Homo sapiens: one gene and its partner. The protein of the gene in region 1 interacts with the protein of each later gene in a biochemical or structural test. Each region holds a gene or a part of one and is shown on either strand. Other genes may lie near its edges.

Evidence for each region. Proteins that work in one complex are often made in the same cells at the same time.
Region 2: the proteins of NFIA (region 1) and ERG form a complex in vitro, tested with the Homo sapiens proteins (one study listed by BioGRID).

The regions. Positions count from the first base shown.
Region 1 is NC_000001.11:61,085,515-61,089,265, reverse strand, and holds part of NFIA (nuclear factor 1 A-type), read right to left. Parts: intron 1,118-3,751; coding exon 586-1,117; intron 1-585.
Region 2 is NC_000021.9:38,496,841-38,500,591, reverse strand, and holds the start of ERG (transcriptional regulator ERG), read left to right. Parts: upstream 1-2,114; 5' UTR 2,115-2,211; coding exon 2,212-2,229; intron 2,230-3,751. UniProt on the Homo sapiens protein: Transcriptional regulator. May participate in transcriptional regulation through the recruitment of SETDB1 histone methyltransferase and subsequent modification of local chromatin structure.

The DNA.
Region 1 (3,751 bases):
GAAAGAGCTGGTTTGTTTCCCTTAGCTATCTGAGACAACACTAAGAATTCCTAAATACAAAGCTACTAAGTCTGCGTATTAATGTGATTATTTTTCCTTCCTAAATGATCAGCAATTTGATAGTAATCTACCTCCAACTTCTTAATTGGCAAGGGGTTCAAGAGGCCTCAGTAGGTTAAAAACACTCCCAGCAGAAAACCAACTAAAAATATTGCCTCAATACCAAAATAAATGCTTTTAAACTAGATCATTTGTCAGTTAAAATATACTCTTTATTAAAAGGGTTTTCACGAGGCTTCTCTCATCCCCTCATCAAAAAATGTGATTTAAACATATCACATATCTGATTACCAACGCCTCTGAAAACACTACTTACCAAAAGAGCTGAACTTAGTGAGAATTCGCTCAAAGCTATGCTTTTTCACCTGAATGAAGGTGGCACCTCTCTCAATCTTTGAAACCACACTGGCTTCATGTACGTGGCCTGCAACTTGGGGAGCTCAGGAAGAATCCGGCATAACGCGGAGGCCATCAGGAAAGAAACACACACAAGAAAGTGGGAGGAATTCTCACCATCGCACTTACCTGCTGCATGCACAAAGTATGCCAAATATAAATCGAGTTCCTTAACAGAAACCCCTATGTGATGGGGTTGGACACAGAGCCCTGGATTAGAGCATTGTGGGGACTTTACAAGGCGCTCGCCATCAGTACTTTCCAGCGGAATACCTTTAAACAAAATCACCATAACAAGGTCCAACCTCCAGACTTTATCTGCCTGGCGGAGGCAGTCAATTCTTCGCATCTTGCCTTTCTGGTCTGGGTTGGAAAGAACACAACATGGAGGTTTTTTCCCTGTAACTGTAAGAACAAAATCCTCTCGATATTCGGGTCGGATATCTTTCCGCAACTTTGCCAGAAGTCGAGATGCCCACTTCTGCTTGACCTCTGGTTTTTCACTTAGCAATTCATCCTTCACGGCTCTCTCTTCTTCTTTTGACATACGCTTTTCATGTTTTTTGAAGTATTTTCGTTTTCGGGCCTGCAGGTTGAACCATGTGTAGGCAAAGGCTCGGACGTGGGGCAGAAGTGCTTCGATGAAAGGATGAAATTCATCCTAGGAAAATGAACAAAAAGAAAAATATAAGTAGAATGAAAACAAAAGAAAACAACTTTTCTTCAGCGGGTCACCTTAAGAAAGAAATTCCTCATTTCACTTGAAATTTGATTAGAGCATTCTGTTACCAAAATCATACACAGGATCCTATGGGAAGTCTGGGAAGGTGGGAGAGAAAACTATCAGTATCATTTCTTATGATCGGAAATAAAAAAACTGCTGAAAATTAAAAAACTGTTTTAATATGTTCACCAGGGTACACCAGCTACTACTGTCGGGCCTAGCTCCCCATCCTTTAGATAGTAAGTGAAGTTTATCTAAATGCTTATAACAATGTATAATCTTAACCCTATTTCAAGGAAGGCATATCTAATTTTGTCCCAGCCTTGACCTCACCACTTGTAGTACAGCCAGGGCCCAGCCGCCAGATTGGCAAATCCTAAACATTTAGATGCCAGTCAATGTTTATGGAAGTCTAGGAGCAAAAAATCATCTCTACAATCAATGAAAACAAAGGCTTTCCCCCTAAAAATATTGCATGTAGATTCTGATATGTTTCTTACTCATTTTGCTAGTGTCTAAATTCCCCTTTTAAATATTATAACTACATATAATTTTTTTAGTCAAAAACTAGGACAAATTTGGGAGGTTCATATACAAAAGAAGGATTGAATTTGATATTTATTAGGCTAAAATAAAAGATCTATGCCCAAGACATAATTGCTAATACTATGGGAATGAAACAAAAAGGGGGAAGAAAGAGGAAAAAAAAACAAAGAAAAGCATACATGAATACATTTAATTTACTAATATGATTGTGAAGTGCTTTCAGTAATAATCATACCTAAAAAATAGATTATTTAATTTTTGCAAATACTATTTCAGGATTTTTCTCATAGGGAATCAGAACCTGGTATTTTCAATATTTACAAGATGCCGGGAAAACCCTCATAGATGCCTCTTAAAATTGAAAAAAAAATTGAGTTTCAAATATTTAAATGTTTCTTTCTGTTTTGCTTAAAATGTTTGATCCTTATACATGACATTTTCTTAGGAAATATAAATATATTTTTTAAAAAATTAAGCAGTAACCTCCACAAAGCTTTCGGAGTACGTCTAACTTTTGATTAACTAATCCACACTGTTACATAACTTCTCTCTGCCACATAACCCCCTCTCCAAAACATAGATTACCTTCAAATAAATGAGGATTAGAAACCAAAGAAAGATTCGATGGCTTTTTTGCTAAATGGTGTAGGACAGACAAATATTATAAAATGCATTCTTTTTCAGTTTGTTATATCTAACTAAATATATACTTTCAAGGCACAGGTAGCAGTAATGTCCAGAATATTATTATTAACACAATTACTAAATTTTTAAATGTTCAAATGTGAACTGATAAGGTAAAATATTTAATAGTCGTGTTGTTTAAAAATTTAGCAAATTATAATCAATCATTTAAACACTCTATATGACTGAGCTTTTAAAAGTAAGTATATATTAATACATAATAAATTACTTCAATAACTGACTTTTTTCCTCTCTGCACAAATTTCAGGTTCTATGTTTCAAGTTTAGCTTTCAAAACTGCTCTTTTTCAATAAAAGAATCCAAAAGAGAAGTAGTCAGCTTTTGTAACACGTGTGCATTCTTTAAGTAGAGAGAGAATAGAAAAAAATACAGGAATTGTTATTCTTGCCATAAACCATTAACATTTTTAAAATTTCTGATGTTTGAGAATATTTCTTATTCTCATACTTTAGGTGACAGGCATGGGGGGCAAGTCACAGTTTATCTGCAAAGGTATACGCCAAACCACAAAGCATCTAAACGTTACTAAATTCTGAGCTCATCCTTGAAATGATCTAAAATACATAAATTTTAGGTTTGAAACAGAACTTCACATTGACTGATTTTCTTATATATACAAGACATGCTAGGGACCAAGACTCTGTTGTATTATGCAAAAAACTCCTGGAGTCTACCTTAAACTACCAAGTGAGCTTTCACCAAAAGGAGGACTTCATTTTAAAGTTTCATCCCCATTTTATAATGCAAAGTATAACTTAGCTCCAAACGATTCATATCTATGTTAAAATGTTATCTTATTTAAAAGTTTGATTAATGATAATAAGCATTTAAAATAAACATTCTAATATGGCATTTTAAGTGTCTGTAGATACTCCCAATATGCTTTTCAAAAAACTGCAAACTGCATGCATGCATTCGTGTCCAACAGGATTCTGTTTACCTGCCAACCAAATGCCCATATATCTCATCATAAAAATCCTTAAACAAGAACAACTATGTCAATTAGTCATTAAGAATAACTTAAGTCCCCAATTTTGCATCAAAAGTATTTACAATGTATTACTCCCCAAAGGTTAAGAACCTGCCAGTAAAAGTCCACAATATTTTGTATAACTTTACTCATATGCACAATTAAAGTATTGATTTTTTCTAATGTATCTTTCTCAAGTCATGATTTAAAATATTCCAGAATATCAAAACTAAAGAGTATCATTAGCTTGCAAGAAATGTCCAGGAATAGCATAAATGATTAGTTAAAAAAAAAAAGTAGTGTGCCCTTATAATTCATGTTGCTGAACATATCGCTATAAGCTAGGTACT
Region 2 (3,751 bases), on another chromosome or scaffold:
AGAGAAAGCAGAGAAAATGATGTACATTGGCACCAGTAGACAATCAGAGTTAACCAGGCAAAGGGTATTAGGAGTTTGGTGTATTATCTTGTGGCTTTTCTGTAAGTTGGAAATTATTTCAAAATAGAGAGGTAAGAAATCCCACTCTTCACAGTTTGATTTGCATTAGGCAAGAACCAGGGAGTTAAGGCCAAATCATCACTGAAGCATTAGGTCCCAGTAGAAATGCTGATCTTTCCTGCTGCAGGGAACAACTGAGGGCTGGATTAGCAACCACGAGGCGTGGGTGAGGCGGGACCACACAGGATTTTCTTCCGTGGCTATTTCATTAGCAAAGCGTTCATCTTATTTAAAGCTGGTGTTTGGTAAAGGCATAATCAGGTGCCATGTGTTGTGGAGGCCACAGTTAACATTTTACATTGATGCTTCTTAGGAGAGAACAAAAAGCAAGGACACTCAGGGAAGCTGAGAGAGCTTTTCTCCTCCGCACTCCAGAATTCTAGTGGAAGCTGCCCAGATAAAACAGCTCAGGACTTTGAAATTTTCGGGGAAACAGAATTTTAATCAGCCTGCCATCTTATTCATTGTTCAGAGATGAAAAGAGCGGAAATCAACACCCCCTCATAATGTAGGTGCTGAGAACTTAGGTTCTGATTTCCACAGAATGATTTTCTTACAATATACTCTCTTTCTTTTCTTTTCCTTCTTTCTTTCCCTCCCTCCCTCCCTTTCTCCTTCCTTCCTCCCTCCTTCCTCCCATCCTCCTTCCTTTCTCTCTCTCTTCTGTCCTTCCTTTCTCCTTCTCCATTTTTTCTCGCCCTCTTCCCTCCCTCCTCCTCCTCCTCTCCTTCCTCTCCCTTTCCCCCCTTATCTTTCTCCTTCTCCTCCTTCTTTTGTCCTAACATGAGGTGATAAATCAGAGGTATATAATAAAAGCCAGAATGACCTGGGCTGGTGGACAGAACTCTGACACATGCCGGCCTAAAGTCTGAGTGAAATCCATTTACTGAACGTCCAGCTCTGCAACCAGGAATTGTCAGATGACTCAGGATTTAGTCTATTGTGTTCTTGGGGTCGCCTATTGAGACCACACCTCTTTATGGGTCCTGCGTTCCTGTAGCTAGATTCAAAGCAAAATGTTTCTTCCAAGCAATTTCCTGAAAATGAGTAATTAAAGTCCTGAAACCCTCTAAGGAATGTTCAGGCCTGCATTCGCTGTACTTCCTTCGAGGAGAAAACAGACCTGTGACCCTGAACTTATAGCTTGGATTTTAGACATGTAATGGGGCCCTCACATGGCATCTCTGGGTAGCCAAAAGTTCTATGAGGATCTGTTGTCTGCAACATGGATGTCTGTCAGAGTGAGACCAGCTCACTGATATTCCGGGACATTTGTAGTCACTTCAGTTATTTGGGTTTTAATAAATACTTGAAAACAAGACTTAGGAAGGTTTATTTTTCCTCTTTATTTTTTGTGTTTACTGTAAGCCTAGAGTCCTTGCGTTTTCAACAACTTTGTTGTAGAGCAAATAAAAAGTGCAGGTATTTGGAAGGAGAAAATGAAACTGTTCTGGAACACTTATATGAAATGTTGAATAAATATAGGTTGTTAAAAATCAGCCAGGCAATGGCTGTTACTGAACATGGCCATCTATTAACATGAAATAAACTCCACCTGCAAAGTTTCCTTTTAGGAGAAAGGAGCTCAAGTCCTCTGTCCTAGTAATTCTGCGAAGAATTGGGCTGCGAAGGGCTGACACCCAGGGCAGTGGGGTGCCCTCAACGCCTTGGCTCCAAGGTGCTTGCAGCCCGTGTGAAGCCATGCGGAGTCCCATCACATCTGCATCCTGCCTTGGTCTCAGTGCAGTGTGTCACACGGCGGCACACCGGTCACACCTGCTGTGGCAGTCCCCATCCCAATTGATGCCTTTTCTTTTTTTAATTAAAAAAAAAAAATCTCCTGGCTGCATATCATCAAGAAAAACAACATTGTTTTCAGGGTCTCTTATCTCTCCACTCCCAAATATCCTGTTTCTTTGGGCTGGACAGCCAGGACCAATAGAAACCTCTTCCTGCCATTGGCTGACTTCATTTCCCAGACTTAGCACAATCTCATCCGCTCTAAACAACCTCATCAAAACTACTTTCTGGTCAGAGAGAAGCAATAATTATTATTAACATTTATTAACGATCAATAAACTTGATCGCATTATGGCCAGCACTATTAAGGTAAGGAAAGGGTTCCTTTTAATTTGACAAAATCTTGTTCTTGTTACTCTTTTCTTTGGTTTCCTTTATCAAGGCAGATAAGTTAGGGTTGGGCAACACCCCCACTGCCACAATAGAGGACAACAAGATTTCCTTTGCACTGCCTAGTAAATTTCCTTTTTCCTACTCCAACCATCCGCAAGGCTTAAAAACTTCAAACTCAGAAAAAAATTGGGGTTTCTAAATTCACTGTTGAGTGCTGTGGATTACTTTTGGAAAGGCTTTTCGGAGCGCTTCTGAATTTTCAGATTCTCTAACTATCCCTAACGGTGCCTGGATGTGTGTCTGAGAAAAGGCAGCAGACTCGGAGAGGTTGAAGGGTCGGGTCAAAGCAAAAGATGCGTTTGTGAATGTCAGACATTTGGAGGCTCTTCAGTGGCTCCTTAGCATCAGGGATGCCAGGCAGTCCCAGTGGAAGCGAAGAGATACTCGGCAAGTGGCTGCTGGTAATGGGACGCAAATGTTGACTTGATTTGTGGGACATCCACGCTGAGAACTGAGTGCTCACGTAACTCAAATGGGGGTAATTTGGTTTGTTCCACTATATGTTTATCTTCAATAAAATACCTACTGTCTGTGCACTGTGAGTAAGATTTCTTCCAGCAATGGTTAGGTTTGCGGAGATTGGAAAGCAATGGCCGGTCGGTTCTCTGTGCTGTGGGGTGTTTGGTCTGATGCATTTCCTTGCCTAAGTTTTTAGTAGATAGCATGTAGAGATTAATGTGGAGGTAAATCTGCACAGGTACAATCCTAAATATGGCCTGATTCCTGGAAATGAAGCCAATTTAATGGTGACTACAAGTCAAGGGGCATGCAGTCTTGAATGGGGGTCCGTTCAGTTGTTTTAAAGGCCACCATGCCTTCGTGACATTTGTAGAAATGTGAAAAATCAGCAACAAAAGCAGATGCTGAGTGGAGGGAAAAGAAAATTGTGTTTGTTGCATGTCTTTAGTTTTGCTGCACGGAGGTGAGAAGCATTTGGTGGTGTTTTCATAAGGCTTTTAGTTTGTTGGAAAGTGCATAAGAAAATGGAAGTTTGCCCAGAATTGGGCCAAGCCATTTTCAAAAATACTCTTTGGTTTGGTATTTTCATAATTTGAAATGTTTGTATTAGAAGATTTGACTCATATGTACCATAGAAACTGTGTTTGAGAAGTTCAGCTTTTATTTCTCAAGGTGTGTTCAATAATATATTAAAAATCTGTGTACCAAGAACTTTCACCTTATACTTTTCTTTCTTTGGCTTCAAGGATTGGAATCTGCTGAAATATGGCTCCTATAGACAGGAATTATAAAATTGAGAGTTAATGTGCCCTACTTATAGCTACATGAATAGAAATTACTTGATTTTGTGACCCAAAATGTTATTTTTTTGTTCTTATTTTCATCCTTATTCATATGCATGTTAAATCAAATATTCTGTGTAAATCTTGAATAGCTTGGGTACGATCTTATGTGGTTTTTTTTCCCAAAAAACTCAGTG